Homo sapiens: one gene and its partner. The protein of the gene in region 2 purifies or fractionates together with the protein of the main gene of each other region. This does not show direct contact. Each region holds a gene or a part of one and is shown on either strand. Other genes may lie near its edges.

Evidence for each region. The genes of interacting proteins can lie anywhere in the genome.
Region 1: the proteins of MYBBP1A (region 2) and RSL1D1 purify together in Homo sapiens (affinity purification with mass spectrometry; 2 studies listed by BioGRID and IntAct, with this or other methods). This does not show direct contact.

What each region holds. Positions count from the first base shown.
Region 1 is NC_000016.10:11,848,529-11,856,160, forward strand, and holds the start of RSL1D1 (ribosomal L1 domain-containing protein 1), read right to left. Parts: upstream 3,015-7,632; 5' UTR 2,985-3,014; coding exon 2,880-2,984; intron 1,891-2,879; coding exon 1,751-1,890; intron 1-1,750. UniProt on the Homo sapiens protein: Regulates cellular senescence through inhibition of PTEN translation. Acts as a pro-apoptotic regulator in response to DNA damage.
Region 2 is NC_000017.11:4,538,404-4,545,404, forward strand, and holds the end of MYBBP1A (myb-binding protein 1A), read right to left. Parts: intron 6,943-7,001; coding exon 6,856-6,942; intron 6,773-6,855; coding exon 6,623-6,772; intron 6,519-6,622; coding exon 6,348-6,518; intron 6,244-6,347; coding exon 6,086-6,243; intron 4,763-6,085; coding exon 4,510-4,762; intron 4,339-4,509; coding exon 4,213-4,338; intron 4,130-4,212; coding exon 4,061-4,129; intron 3,489-4,060; coding exon 3,381-3,488; intron 3,162-3,380; coding exon 3,060-3,161; intron 2,082-3,059; coding exon 1,945-2,081; intron 1,565-1,944; coding exon 1,012-1,564; 3' UTR 573-1,011; coding exon of another isoform or gene 537-572; 3' UTR 501-536; downstream 1-500. UniProt on the Homo sapiens protein: May activate or repress transcription via interactions with sequence specific DNA-binding proteins. Repression may be mediated at least in part by histone deacetylase activity (HDAC activity).

The sequences.
Region 1 (7,632 bases), on a different chromosome or scaffold from region 2:
CTTTTCCTTTTTTTGAGACAGGGTTTTGCTCAGTACCCAAGGCTGCAGTGCAGTGGTGTGATCATAGCTCACGATAGCCTCCAGCATAGCTGAGACTCCAGGCACGTACCAGTTGGGTGTAGGCCCAGCTAATTTTTGTATTTTTCGTAGAGACAGGGTTTCGCCACATAGCCTGGGCTGGTCTTGAATTTGTGGGCTCAAGCAATCCACCTGCCTCAGCCTCCCAAACTGCTGAGATTACAGTGTGAGCCACCACACTCAGCCAACATAACTTTTTTTTTTTTTTTTGAGATGGGAGTCTCACTGTCGCCCAGGCTGGAGTCTCTGCAACCTCTGCCTCCTGGGTTCAAATGATTCTTGCACTTCAGCCTCCCAAACAGCTGGGATTACAGACGCCCACCATCATGTCTGGCTAATTTTTGTATTTTTAGGAGACATGGGATTTCGCCATGTTGGGTCAGGATGATCTCAAACTCCCAGGCCTCAAATGATCCACCCACCTCACCTCCCAAAGTGCTGAGATTACAGGGATGAGTCACCATGCCCAGCATAACATAACTTTTAAGAATTGAAACAGCCCAGGCATGGAGGCTCATGCCTGTAATCCCAACACTTTGGGAGACTGAGAGGGAGGACTGCTTGAGCCTGAGTTCGAGACCAGCCTGGAGAACACAGTGAAACCTCATCTCCACAAAGATTTCAAAATTAGCTAGGCATGGTGGTGTGCACCTGTAGTCCCAGCTACTTGGAAGGCTGAGGTGGGAGGATCACTTGAGTCAGGTCAGGGAGGTTGAGGTTGCAGTGAACACAGATCTCACTATTGTACTCCAGCTGGGCAACAGCGCAAGATCTCGTCTCTTAAAAAAAAAAAAAAAAGGAGAGATAAAAGAATCGAAACCAAAAACATGGACTAAACCAAGAGGGACCAGCAAACACAATTATGCCACATCTTACAGAAAATAAAATACAAGGGTTTAACTCATTTCTTATGCTTACAACCTATGTTCTGAAGAAGCATTCTGTATAATCACCATGGATTTCTTTTCCATAGACAGAAATTCACTGCAGTTTTTAATAGTCTCTGTACAAAGGAATAAATTGTAGCCCCAAAGAATTTTTGCTTGACATGGAAAGATAACAGTTTCTAATAAAAAAATAAAATAAAATAAAGCTGTTTAACTTATTCCACCTTTATTCTTTCGAACACCACGTTTTCGATTCAACAGACCTGATTACGTTAGCTGTCCACCAAGCTCTAAGAAAACTGGTGAAATTTCTAGAAAATTTTAGCACATCTGAATTTCTACGGTTCTTTTATTTTTTATTATTTTTTATTTTTTTGAGACAGAGTCTTGCTCTGTCGCCTAGGCTGGAGTGCAATGGAGACATCTCCGCTCACTGCCACTCTCCTGCCTCAGCCTCCCGAGTAGCTGAGATTACAGGCACCCGCCATCATGCCTGGCTAATTTTTGTATTTTTGGAGAGACAGGGTTTTACCATGTTGGCCAGGCTGGTTTTGAACTCCCGACCTCAGGTGATCCGTCCACCTCGGCCTCCCAAAGTGCTGGGATTACAGGTGTGAGCCACCACATCAAGCCTCTATGGTTCTTTTGGACATAGTTGTTTTACTTCACGTCAGATTTTTATTATAAGTTTGCAAAGTTTCCATTAGTAACCATGATGCAATTGTTCGAGTTACAAAGAATAAACACACAGATAAAAACAGCAAAGGTAGAAAATCACAACTTACAATCTGACCCTCAGTTCTTTACTTGGAATTTTCCATAATACCACCATTAAAAATAAACTTTCATTCTCATTCAAAAGCAACCCATAATTGTTTTTCCTGGACTTGCAATGCGTCAAGAGAGCGTCCACTGCCTTTCTAACCTGCAAAGTGGAAATTAGACAAATAAGTGAAATGTTTTCACAATAACTTACACAAATAAATGAAATGTTCTCAATCTAATTTAGCATTTGCCCCCTCCCACACCTTCTATTTTTTCCCTTCCAACTTCTATTTCAAGGGGTAACCTCCATAACCGTATCTATTAGGATCCTGCAGTTTATATTCACAGAAATCTAAGAATCCATCAAACATGCCTAAGTACCCACTTCCAGTACTGTGTGCAGAAGGGCACCTCTTCTACTTAAAGAGATTGGGCTAGAGGGAAACGTGCCCCTCCTGCCCTCAATGATGAAAGCAGTAATCCCAGGAAAAACGCAAAGCAAAATGCATTTAGCATTTACTGAGAACTCCTGGCAATTCTCCTGCCTCAGCTTCCCGAGTAGCTGAGATTACAGGCGCCCGCCACCACGCCCACCTAATTTTTGTATTTTTAGTAGAGACGGGGTTTCACCATGTTGGCCAGGCTGGTATCGAACTCCTGACCTCAGGTGATCCACCCGCCTCGGCCTCCAAAAGTGCTGGGATTACAGGCGTGAGCCACCGCGCCCGGCCTACTGAGCACCTTCTTACCATGTACCAGGCCAAAGCGCTTTACACTCATTACCTCTCCCGATCCTGGATAACGGGGAGCCGAAGGGCCCACTTTAAATAACGGGTAACAGACCTGCAAAACTAAGCGATTCGGTCAAGCGCTAATGATAGGGAAGCTAAGCCAGGTCGCCAGGTCTATCTCATCTAGCTCCACAGCACACTTGCAACCCAATTCACTAGCGCCAGGCCGCAGGACCAGGGAAAGCAGGCGCCCACCCACGTGTGTAAAGGGGAGAGACAGCTGAGGCACACGGCCCGCCAGCGACCGTCCCACAGCCCCGGGGAAGTCCGCCGAGCACGCACTCGGGTTCCGGCACCCTGCGCCTCACGAGGTAACCGCCACACTGCTTCCAAGCCACCCTCCCCAGGAACCACTCACCTGTTCTTTATCCAGCTGCTTCCGTGCTGTCGGGGCCGCTGGAGTCGAGGTGGAGGTTCCAGTAGCGGCTGCAGAAGACAGCGAGGCCGAGGCCGAATCCTCCATCTTGTTTCCACCTCGTGAAGAGGCGCGTGTGCAACCCCACTGCTGGCTTCTGGTGCGCACGCGCGAGCAAGCCCGGCCCCGGAAGCGAGGGGGCGGGAACCGAGCCTCTGTGCGTCATTTCCGGGAGAGCGTGGGGTTTCGCTCTCCGGGGCAGTGGCTGCTGTCAGAATCCCTTCTTTGAGGAGGCACCTGCTCTTCCGCTTTTCTCCAGCTTTCCATGAGCTGTGGGGAGTAGCTTGGGTGTCCTCTCACTCTTACTAGATAGAAATCAAGAAAGCGCCTTGAGGCGAGAGAAGAGTCCCGTCAGGAGGCCCAGTGGGGTCCTCCACACTCCACGGTCCCCGCCTCCGGGAAGGCCGCGCGTGGCATGGGCAGAGCGCGGAATCCTGGCTCCACTGCCCACCTGCCCGTTGACTTTAGGCGACGCCAACCCCAGGCTGGTGAGGAGTCCCTGAAATATAAGGCACGGGAGCCACCCGGAGCCACCCGACCTGCCACGTTAAGCAGCATGAGGGACCGAAAGATGAGTCTGGGCCAGTCTCTTAGGAGCTTCTGGTCTCGCAGAGAGGCGGGAGGTAAGATCCTGTACAAATAAGCGTGGCTGGTCGTGCGCGTGGCTGGCGTCTGGAATCCCAGCGCTCTGGGAGGCCGAGGCGGAGGGATTCCAGGAGTTGGAGACCAGTCCGTGCATATACGAGACTCCGTCTCTCCAAAAATTATAAACATTAGCCGGCGTGGTGGTGCGCGCCTGTAGTCCCGGCTACTTGGGAGGCGGAGGATGGAGGATCTTGAGGAATTCGAGGCTCGGTGAGTTCTGATCCGCGCCACTGCACTCCAGCGTAGGCAGTAGAGTGAGACCTTGTCGCTAAACAAACAGGTTAGGAGTGGAGGCTGGATAACTGACAAATGGAATACCTTAGAACAGGGGAGTCCAATCTTTTGGCTTCCGTGGGCCACACTGGAAGAAGAATTGCCTGGGCCCATATATAAAACTAATACTAATGATAGCCGACGAGCTTTAAAAAAAAAATCTAAAAAAAATCTCGTAATGCTTTAAGGAAGTTTACGAATTCGTGTTGGGCTGTATTCAAAGCCTGGCCTCCAGGGCCGCACGCGGCCCTTGGGTAGGACAGGTTTGCTTTGTAATGTCTTCCTCCCACTCCACCCGCCTCCCCAGAGGTACCCTTACCAGTGTCTCCTGGAACCTTCCAGAGATGTTCTAGGCATGTTTAGGAGATACTTCTCCTTTCTCTTGTTGGATGGGTTTAATTAATTTTTTTCCTTTTTTTTTTTTTTTTTTTTGTAATGGAGTCTCGCTCTGTCGCACAGGCTGGAGTGCAGTGGCACGATCTGGGCTCACTGTATCCTTCGCTTCCCGGGTTCAAGCAGTTCTCTGCCTCAGCCTCCCGAGTAACTAGGATTACAGGCACGCGCCACAACGCCCGGCTAATTTTTGTATTTTTAGTAAAGATGGGGTTTCACCATCCTGGCCAGGCTGGTCTTGAACTCCTGGACTTCATGATCCACCTGCCTCGGCCTCCCAAAGTGCTAGGATTATAGGCGTGAACCACCACGGCCAATTTTTTTTTAAAGAGGGAGTCTTGCCCTGACGCCCAGGCTGGAGTGCAGTGATCTTGTCTCACTGCAGTCTCTCCCTTTCGGGTTCAAGCAGTTCTCCTGTCTCAGCCTCCCGAGTAGCTGAAACTACAGGCGGACGCCACCATGCCCGGCTACTTTTTTTTTTTTTTTTGAGACAGAGTTTCGCTCTTGTTGCCCAGGCTGGAGTGCAATGGCGAGATCTCAGCCCACCGCAACCTCCGCCTCCTGAGCTCAAGCTATTCTCCTGCCTCAGCCTCCCCAGTAGCTGAGATTACGGGTATGCACCACCATGCCTGGCTAATTTTTTTTTTTTTTTTTTTTGAGACGGAGTCTTGCTCTGTCGCCCAGGCTGGAGTGCAGTGGCGCGATCTTGGCTCACTGCAAGCTTCGCCTCCTGGGTTCACGCCATTCTCCTGCCTCAGCCTCCCGAGTAGCTGGGACTACAGGCGCCCGCCACCACGCCCGGCTAATTTTTTTTTTTTGTATTTTTAGTAGAGACAAGGTTTCACCGTGTTAGCCAGGATGGTCTCGATCTGACCTCTGCCCTCGTGATGCGCCCGCCTCGGACTCCCAAAGTGCTGGGATTACAGGCCTGAGCCACCGCGCCCGGCGTTAATTTTGTATTTTTAGTAGAGACGGGGTTTGTCCATGTTGGCCAGGCTGGTCTGGAACTCCTGACCTCAGGTGATCCACCTTGGCCTCCCAAAATGCTGGGATTACATGTGTGAGCCACTGTGCCCAGCCTTTTTTTTTTTTTTTTTTTTTTTTTTTTTTAAGAAACGGAGTCTGGCTCTGTCACTCAGGTTGGAGTGTAGTGTCATGACTATAGCTTACTGCAGTTTGGAACTGCTGGGTTCAACAGATCCTCCGGCTTCAGCTTCCCGAGTAGGTAGGACTAAAGGTTCAGGTCACCACGTCCTGCTAACTTTTACAATTTTTTTGTAGAGATGAGGACAGGGAGGGGTCTCACCATGTTGCCCAGGTTGGTCTCGAACTCCTGGCCTCAAGGGATCCTCCCACCTCAGCCTCCCAAAGTGCTGGGGTAATATGCATAAACCACTGGACCTGGTCAAACTTTTACTTTTTAGAAAAAGACATATAGTAGCCTAGTATACCCATTGTTCCGCACCTTGCTTTTTCTTCTTAATATACCTTGGAGATTGTTCCAAGTCAGTACACAAAGCTCTGCCTCATCTTTTTAAACGGCTCTGTGGTGTTCCACCATGCAACAACACTACAGTTTATTTAGGAACTTTTTTAGGCGCCTTCAGGTTGGTTTCAGACTTTTTGCAACTAGTTATATAAAGTTTTGAGAGATGGAGGAATGAGAGTAATAGGCTTTCCTTCAATTGCTTTCAAAAGGTGTTCCTTCCATGAAAGGATGTTCTGCTAATCTCTAGTAATAGCCTTGTGTTTAATCAAGTTGTAGAAGAAATGTTCTGAAATCATTGGCACCTGCTTCCCTTTGTGTATTCTAGAATCTATTAGTAAGAGTGGTTTCCTTTTAGCACAGCTTAATGAATTGTTACACTGGGCTTTGTTGATCCATGTTTTGTAGTATTCTTGAGAATATGGAGGCTATCAGATGTTCTTTCACCTGAACTTAAGTTTGAGAACCATACTTGTAGGCCAAGGACACAGCATGAATGCTGGTGAAAGTGTATGGAAGTGTTTGGAAGCAGTACATAGCTAGAGCAGGAATGTGCAGAGGGGAGGAATGGGAGATGCAGTTTGGAAAGTAGGTAAAGGAATGAATTCATTATCAAGCTGAGGGTTTATACTCACTTTGGAGAAATTGTAAAGATAAAAGGTTTTTGAACTGGCAGTAGAGAAGAAAAGGTAGTGATGATTTATGCGTTAGGTAAGTTAATAATCTGGTTGTGATATTGTGGTTTTAAAGATGTGTCCTATCTATGGATTCTTTGATACCTCTCCCCTCAACTAATGAGGCTTCGTTTCCCTCCCCTTGAGTATACACTGAACTTAGTGGCTTGCTTCTATGAAACAATATGGCAGAAGTGATGCTATATCACTTCTGAGATTAGGTTATAAAACGACTGTAGTTTCATGGCCCGGGGAAGGTGGTTCATGCCTGTAATCCCAGCACTTTGGGAGGCCAAGGCGGGCGGATCACAAGGTTAGGAGATCGAGATCATCCTGGCTAACATGGTGAAACCCTGTCTCTACTAAAAATACAAAAAGAAATTAGCCGGGCTTGGTGGCGGGCACCTGTAGTCCCAGCTACTCGGGAGACCGAGGCAGGAGAATGGCGTGAACGGGGGAGGCAGAGCTTGCAGTGAGCCGAGATCTCACCACAGTACTCCAGCTGGGTGACAGAGCGAGACTCCGTCTCAAAAAAAAAAAAAGACCGTAGTTTCATCTTTGATGTTCTTTCTCTCCCTGTTTCCCTCTCTCATTTACTCCCTCCCTCATTACTTGTAAGGCAGCCCTGGAGAGAGGGAAGCCAGCTGCCATGTTGTGAGGACACTTGGGCAGCCACACAAGTGAGGTTGGAAGTGGATCCTCCCCGGGTCCAACCTTGAGATGATTGCAAACTCAAGAGGCCCTGAGCCAGAACCACTCAGCTAGGTTGCTCCCAGATTCCTGACCCATAAAAACTGTAATATCATAAATGTGTGTTCTTTTAAGGCACTAAATTGGGGTAATTTGTTATCCATCAGTAGATAACTAGTACAGATTAGTATACCTCCTGTCTTCAGACTCATAGACATATTCACCTGTCTTGGAAAAGTCCTATTAGGACCTTATCCTCGGCAAGTCCCGTCGTGAATCATCATCTTCTCAAACCTGCTTCTCTTCTTGTGTGTGTGTGTGTTTTTTTTTTTTTTTTTTTTTTTTTTTTTTTTTTTGAGATGGAGTCTTGCTCTGTCGCTCAGGCTGGAGTGTAGTGCAGTGGCACAGTCTCGGCTCACTGCAACCCCTCCCTCCCAGGTTCAAGCGATTCTCATGCCTCAACCTCCCGAGTAGCTGGGATTACAGGCACGCGCCACGGTGCCTGGCAAATTTTTGTATTTTTAGTAGAGACGGG
Region 2 (7,001 bases):
GCTGAGGCCCCGGGAGAGGCGGCCCCTACCCAAACACTGGCTGCTGGCATTCCACCAAGTGACCCCAGGGGGGGGCCAGGCCTTCGATCACCCACCTCCCATCCATGCACACACCAGGATGCAGCTGCCAACTTCACACCAGCCCCAACCCGCTTTGGGGGAGCTTAGCCCCCTGCGTCACCCACTCCCTGCACTTCTGCTGCAATCAAGGTGGTTCTGGTGCGGGGGTGGGGTGGGGGGTGAGGCCTTGTGGCCAATGGGGGACCCCCCAAGAGCCAGCTTGGACAATGCTCTTCTTGCCCCTTAGTTACTGGCTGGCTGTGGCTTCAGTGGTGTGTAAGCAGGTGGAATACTCACCCACCAAGCTCTGGGGTACCCCGAGGGCCTGACAAGAGGATGGGGTGGGGGTGGCATCCTCCAAAGACCAGCCTCCACCCCCACTCCAGCCTCAGCGGGGCCCCAGCGATGTTTTCTTGTTGTACAAGAACCAGGTCCGAGTGTTGCCTCCTCTTCCTTCCGGAAGCCAAACTGCTCCTTTATTTTTTAGAGCTGCTGATTGTGAATCTCAGAGTCTTAAGAGAGAAGCCAAATATATTCCTCTTGTAAATGAAGAAATAAACCTATTTAAATCACCCCCTGGTGGCTCCCTCACAGCAAAAAAGCCTGGGGGCAAAGAGGTGGCAGGCACGAGAGATGGTCACACCTGCCTGCAGCCAGCACATCAACCTGCACCAACCCAGGCAAACACCAGAGCCCTGGACATGGCCCTGGAGCCAGGGTCCCAGCCCAGAACCGGGGGTGGGGAGGTCTCTGCACCCTGGGACCCCTGCAGGAATGGCTCAGGCTGTGCTTGCCAGAGCAGGATGCCCGGGCAGGCGGCAACAGCCACCCTCCCCAGTGGCAGCGCCTTAGAAACAGCTTGCGTATTAAAATCATGGTTTAAAAAAAAAAAAAAAAAATAGGCGTCTCAGGCAGATGGAGGCAGGGGCTGAGGGGGGCCCGTACCTGTGCTCAGGGCTTCCCTGCCTTCCTCACCTGTGCTTTCTTCTTGGCCCCACTCTGAAGCAGGCTGGGACTCCTGATGACCAAAGACAGCCTTGCCTTTTTCCGTGCCAGCGCGGACAGTGGTGATTTGCCCAAGACCCCCTTTTTGGGAAGAGCCTTCTGATGCTGCTTTTGGCCTGCAGGTTCCGTGGGGGACCCGGGAGCTCCATTCACCTGGGACGGCTTCTGGTTTTTCTTCTGCAGTTTTGGGGATTTGGCAGGGGTGCTGGGGCTCCGGGTGGGGGCGCCAGGGGCTGGACTCTTGGTGGTTGGCGTCCCGTTTGCCTGGGCTGGGACCTTAGCCTTTGTCCTGTTCCTCTTCTTCCTGCCCATGCTGGGGGGCTGGCTCCCGCCGGTGGCTGCAGGTGTGCCATCCTCCGCTGGCGTGCCATCCTCTGACTTGCGTTTCTTGCGCTTCTTCGTCTCTGGCAAGAATCCCTTTTTCTTCCGCTTCTTACTGATGGGGCTCTGGGTGGCACTGGGGATCTCCTTGGCATCCTTCTTCTCCAACTTGGGGCGCCTGAAGGGAAGTGAGCAAGGTTAGAAGGTGCCCATCGAGGGCAGCAGCCACCGCCACCGCGACTGCTACCTCCACCTGGATTCTGAGGGTCCTCTGAGGCCCCTAGGTTCTGTGAGGCCCCTATGAGGGTCCCGTGAGGGTCCTATGAGGGTCCTGCGAGGCCCCTGGGTCCTGCGAGGGTCCTGCGAGGCTCCTGCGAGGGTCCTGTGAGGGTCCTACAGCTCCCACATCTGAGAATGCGCTTGAGTGCATGTGTGTGCAGCAGCATGCGTGTGCAGTGTGCGTGTGCAGCAGCGTGTGTGCAGCGTGTGTGTGTGTGCAGCAGCGTGAGGGTGTTCCCAGCCCCTACCCAAGGTGTGTGTCCCCCTCCCAGAACCTACTGGACTCCCAGGGTTTTCATGGCCTGCCAGTAGAGGTCGTGCAGGCGGCTGGAGCCGGTGGAGTGTGCCCCCTGCTGTAGGCTCTGCTGTTGCCCCTGCAGCACACCCAGGAGCACCGTCAGGTCCAAGGTCAGCTTCTGCAGAGGGTGGGAAGGCAGAGCTGTGGGGCCACAGAGGGCGGGGCCTCTCGCGGGCTCCCAGTCTTCCCACCTCTGCCCTGTTGCTGCCTCACCAGTGACCCCTGCCCCTTCCTGGGCCTCAGCCTCTCCTTCTGCCTGTTAAGTCATCCGTGTCTCTTACCGAGGGAGGAAACACGCGCCCCAGGTGTTGGTTCTCCTCCTTCCCATAGCCAAAGGCCTGGTCTCAGAGTCTCGGTGTCCTCCCCTCCAGCAGTGGCCCGGGCCCACCCACCTCCAAGAGGGCCACTCCCCAGCACTCCATCACCGCGGGGCTGCCAAAGCGCTTCCCCACCCAACCCTGCCACCTTCCTGCACATCCTGAATGGGTTATTGTTGGAATCCGCCAGCTTCCGGGAGCCCTGCTCTCCTGGCTTCCTCACTATCAGCCAGTTTTGTAAGGCCCCGTCCCGGGCCCCGCCTCTGCCTGCCAGCACCCCCTTGGCAAGCTCTCCCTCCACAAGGGCTGACTAGCACCTATGCTGAAGATTCCCAAACCCCGCCCTCTGGGCCAGACCGGGGGACCCAGATGGCCACCTCCAGCTGCCTCCCAGCCCTGCCCTGATGGCTGCCCACACTCCTGTACCAGGCCTGGAAACCTGGCTGCTCACCCTGAATCTTCTCCAACCCTTCCACAGTCTCCAGCCCTGCCAGCCCCTTCTCGGCTTTCTCACGGGATGTGGCAGTGCCACCCCACCCCCTCTCACCCCGCCCTGCAGGAGGAGGACAGGGTGGCACAGTCCCTTCCCAAGTCACTCACCCATCCATGGTTTGGTAACTGCCCAAATGGCAGCCCAGAGCCCTGGCCCAGGCACTGAGAAGTTTCCCCACATGACCCCCATCCCTGCAGTCCAGCCCGGGCATGGCACTGCTGGCCGGGAGGCCCCAAGGCCCCCAAGAGGAACCCGAACACGACCGCGGACTGGGCCCCCGCCTCACCTCATGTTTGCAGGTCCTGAAGAGAACGTTGAGCAGCTCCAGGGAGGACAGTGCCTGCTGATGCTGCGCCTTGGTCTGCGCCTCCCCCAGCACGCGCAAGTTCTAGGGAAGGGTGGCCAGGCTGAGGCACTCCGGAGAGCTGCTCAAAGCCTTTCTGTTTCCCAGCCGGAAGTAAAGCCCAGAGGCAGGGACCGTCTCCTGGGACAACCCCAGTTCTCCCGACTCTGGACTCAGGCTCCAATCCTCACTTCTTTCCCAGAGATCGGTCTCCCGGAGAACTGATTCTGAGGGGGTGGGGAAAGGGCGCCCCCCGGCTGTTACCTCGGTGACCTTTGCTAGGACCTGGCCCATCAGCTGCTTCCACTCGGGGTCCTCAAAGCACGACCTCACCTCCCGCATGGACAGGGTCTTCTGGAGCAGCAGGCAGGCCTGTGGGTGGGCAAAGGTGGGTGGCAGGAGCCTTGGCACGTTGGGTGCTCACGGCTCAGGGATGCATGAGGGCTCGGGGGCCCGCTGGGCACTGCTGTGGGCAGCGTGTGAGGCTGCCTGCTGCTCTGGGCTCTGTGACTACCTGCTCCTGTGCCTTTGTGTGCAGGTGGGGACACCAAGGCCTCCCAGCTGGATAGAGGTGGGACCTCAGGTTGGGACAATTCCTGCCCATTATTGGCTTAGTGCCATCTTCCTCCAGCCTGCCCCCAACAGCCCTGGCACCAGAGCAGACACTACCAGGGGCATCCTGTGTGTGGCCAGATGGGCAGCAGTGGCTGCGGGAGTGAGGCTGGCCCTGCCCCCTCAGCTCCTGTGTGTTCACTGTGTGGCAGGGGCCAGGGCACGGCCACCCCCTTCAGAGACCATGTACCCACAGCCAAGCCAGTGGGGCAGGGACAGCTGTGCCCGTGCTCACCAGGACAGCGCTCTGGGGCCTCACAATATCCAGTCAGAAGAGGGTTAAGCGGGTTAATTCAGACAGGCCCTGGGCTGGGAGCTGGGAAGTCTCTCACCTGATGACGGGGCCGCACCGGGCCCGTGATATGCTGGACCAGGATGGGGAGCAGGCTCTGACAGAGCACCTGGTGGGGAGTGACAAGGGCTGTGAGGTGCAGGCTGGGCTGAGCAGGGACCATGAGGAAGCAGGGCAGGCCCCAACACTCACCGGGTGCCGGGAGAAGAGGCTGAGGAACATGGGAACTGTGAGGGGGCTGTTGCGCTTGGTCAGGAAGGAGCTCAGTGCTGTCGAGTACACCCGGGTCACCAGGTTCAAGTCCAAGCAGCTGGCAGCCTAGGCCAGGGGAGAGCGAGCTGGGTGAGGCCAGGAGAGGGGTCCCTGGGATGGGAGCAGAGCCTGGCCTACCTTCATCAGAAGGCTGAGGGTTGGGCCCTGGGGAAGTCCCGGCCTCCACTCCCTGGCTGTGAAATGCCTGGGGCTGCTCCTGGGCCAGGCCCTGCTCACCTGCGGGCCCGTGGGCATGTGGCTGGGGTCAGTGCCAGCTTTCTGCTTCTCCTGTGTCTCATGCACGCAGCCCTCAGCAGTGTTGCCCTTCAAGACCCGGAGCAGGTAGAGAGAGGCGTTGAAGTGGTAGAGGGCGGTGGGGGAGTCGGGCTGGCGGCCAGCCTGCTGCACCAACCGCTCCACCTGGGCGTGCAGGGCCCCTGCGCGCTCACCCAAGTCGTGGCAGTAGCGCCGGGCACGGCACAGGTGGTGCCTGTGGGTGGTGAGGACGAGAGCTGGTCAGAACATTCTCGGTCCACCCTGCTCCGCCAAGCAGAGCCAACCCAAGTCCCACTTTATAAGTGGGGAAACAGACCTAGAAGACGACAGAGGCGACCCAGGCCACAGAGGAGGGCCCAGGGCCGCCTGCAGGCTGCCTGGAAGCTGTGTGGGCTCAGAGTGCTGGGGTGACAGGGGCGCTCCAGGGGAGAACAGAACAGCTCCCTGAGTGGAGGCTGCACCAAGGGCCAACTGCCTGCCTGGGGCACCCCTCCTGTCTACACTTGTCTCTCATGGGGCAGTGGCCTTCAGGCCTTTTGTAAAGCGAGACAAGGGTTCATGTGCTTAGAACCCTCTGTGGCCCTGCAGGGCCGGGGATATAATGGGGGCAAGAGGCAGGATGCTCAACAAACGACACTGTCCACGCACGCTGGCAGAACTATCTGAGAAGGCGTGGCCCGGGCGGGCCTGGGTTTGTGAAGAATGCACTGCCAGTCACACTCCCCACCCCTCCTGACTATCCACGCAGCGCCCCAGCTCCCAGGCCTTCACCTCCCCAGCACCTGAGCTCTGAAGGCAGGTCTACCAGGTGCCTGCCTGTCTCTCCCACGCCTGCCACCGCCTCCCTCCTGGGCCCTCTGCCTCCAGCACAGCCCCTCCCAAACCCTTCTCCACGCTGCCAGCCGTTTCTGAAAAGGCAAACCAGACTCAGACCCTTCCCCACGCCACTGCTCTTGCTGATAATGCCTCTGTGGCCTCCAGCACCGCTAGGGTCAGGGCCTGCGAGGGTGCGGGGGTCTGTGGCCTCGCTGCTTGCCTGACCTTCCAGCTGCGTGTCTGACCAGCTCCCGTCAGGATGCTCTTCCTCCCTTTCTGCCCTGCCCAAGGCCTCCCAGCCTGACAAACTCCCATGCACACTACACCTCCGAGGACTGGGTTGGGTGTCCCCTGCCACAGGTGCACCCACTGTCCCCCTCCACCCCAGCACAGCCCCACTTGAGACTGTCAAGGGCAGGGATGGACCCCAGCTCCAGGGCACTGTTGGCACAGCCCCACTTGAGACTGTCAAGGGCAGGGATGGACCCCAGCTCCAGGGCACTGTTGGCACTGTGTCGGGAGAACGCGGGGATGAAGCAAGGACTGTGGGAATCACTAAGTGACGTGTGCCTCTAGGGCTGAGCAGTGAGCCTGCGAGCTAGGGGCCCAGGCTGGAAGCTTGGCTCTCTCCTTCCTGTGCAGACAGCAAGCCTAGAGCTCTGGCTCTCCTGCGCCTGGGGGCTGCCGGCCACACCTGCCCGCCCTGCACCCCCGTGCTCACGTGAAGATGCGCGCCGTCTTGTGCAGAAGGTCCTGCTCCTGTTTGGAGCTGCTGCTGCGCAGGCTGCGCCGGATGATGCTCAGCAGCGGCTCCAGCAGCTCCAGGACCAGGGCATTCTCGGGCTGCTTGGTCACTAGCACCTCCACCAGGTCCAGCACCTGCAGCCAGGAGGGCAGGTCAGCAACACGGGGGTGGGCGCACAGGGAGGCGGGGGTGGGCGCACAGGGAGGCGGGGGTGGGTGCGGCCCGCCCCCAGGCTCACCCGGATCTGGAAGTCGCGCCGCAGAGCCTTCTCCTTCTGCAGCTTGTTCTTCTCGTCTCGCCGGGCCTGGATACGCAGCTTCTGCTCGGCAAAGAGGCTGGCGAGGCTCTGGTCCAGGGCCATCATGGCCTCATCCCCCAGCTCCTCCTCGTTCTCACTGTCCTCTCCACCCTGAGGGACAGAGGCCCAGCGGTCAGCCAGGCCTCGGGCAGGCACACAACATGGGGACACCCGAGCCCTCCCCGGCCGCCCCCCCCTCCACCTCCCCCACTCACCAGCGCCTTCCCAGCCTGCAGCACGGTCATCAGCTGTTCCCGGAAGCCCTGATCCACGTCCCCGTCGCGCTCCTCCTCCTCGCTCTCCTCCCCCTCGCTCTCCTCTTCACTCTCTGAGCTTCTGTTGTCCTCACCTTCCTCGCTCTTGTCCTGTGTGGTAGAGGCAGGCGCGTCACACACCTCCCCGATCGTCCCACTCCCCACCGCCCCCGCCCGGCCCATGCTGGCAACACCTCTGCACCCTTCAGCCGCCGCTCATCAGAATCGTCCGTCACCACCACACGGTCATTCTCATCCTCACTGGTCTCGGGGTTCAGCACCTGGGGAGGGGTGCCAGCCACTGACCCATTTGCAGCCCCCGCCCTCCTCTCCAGGCCCC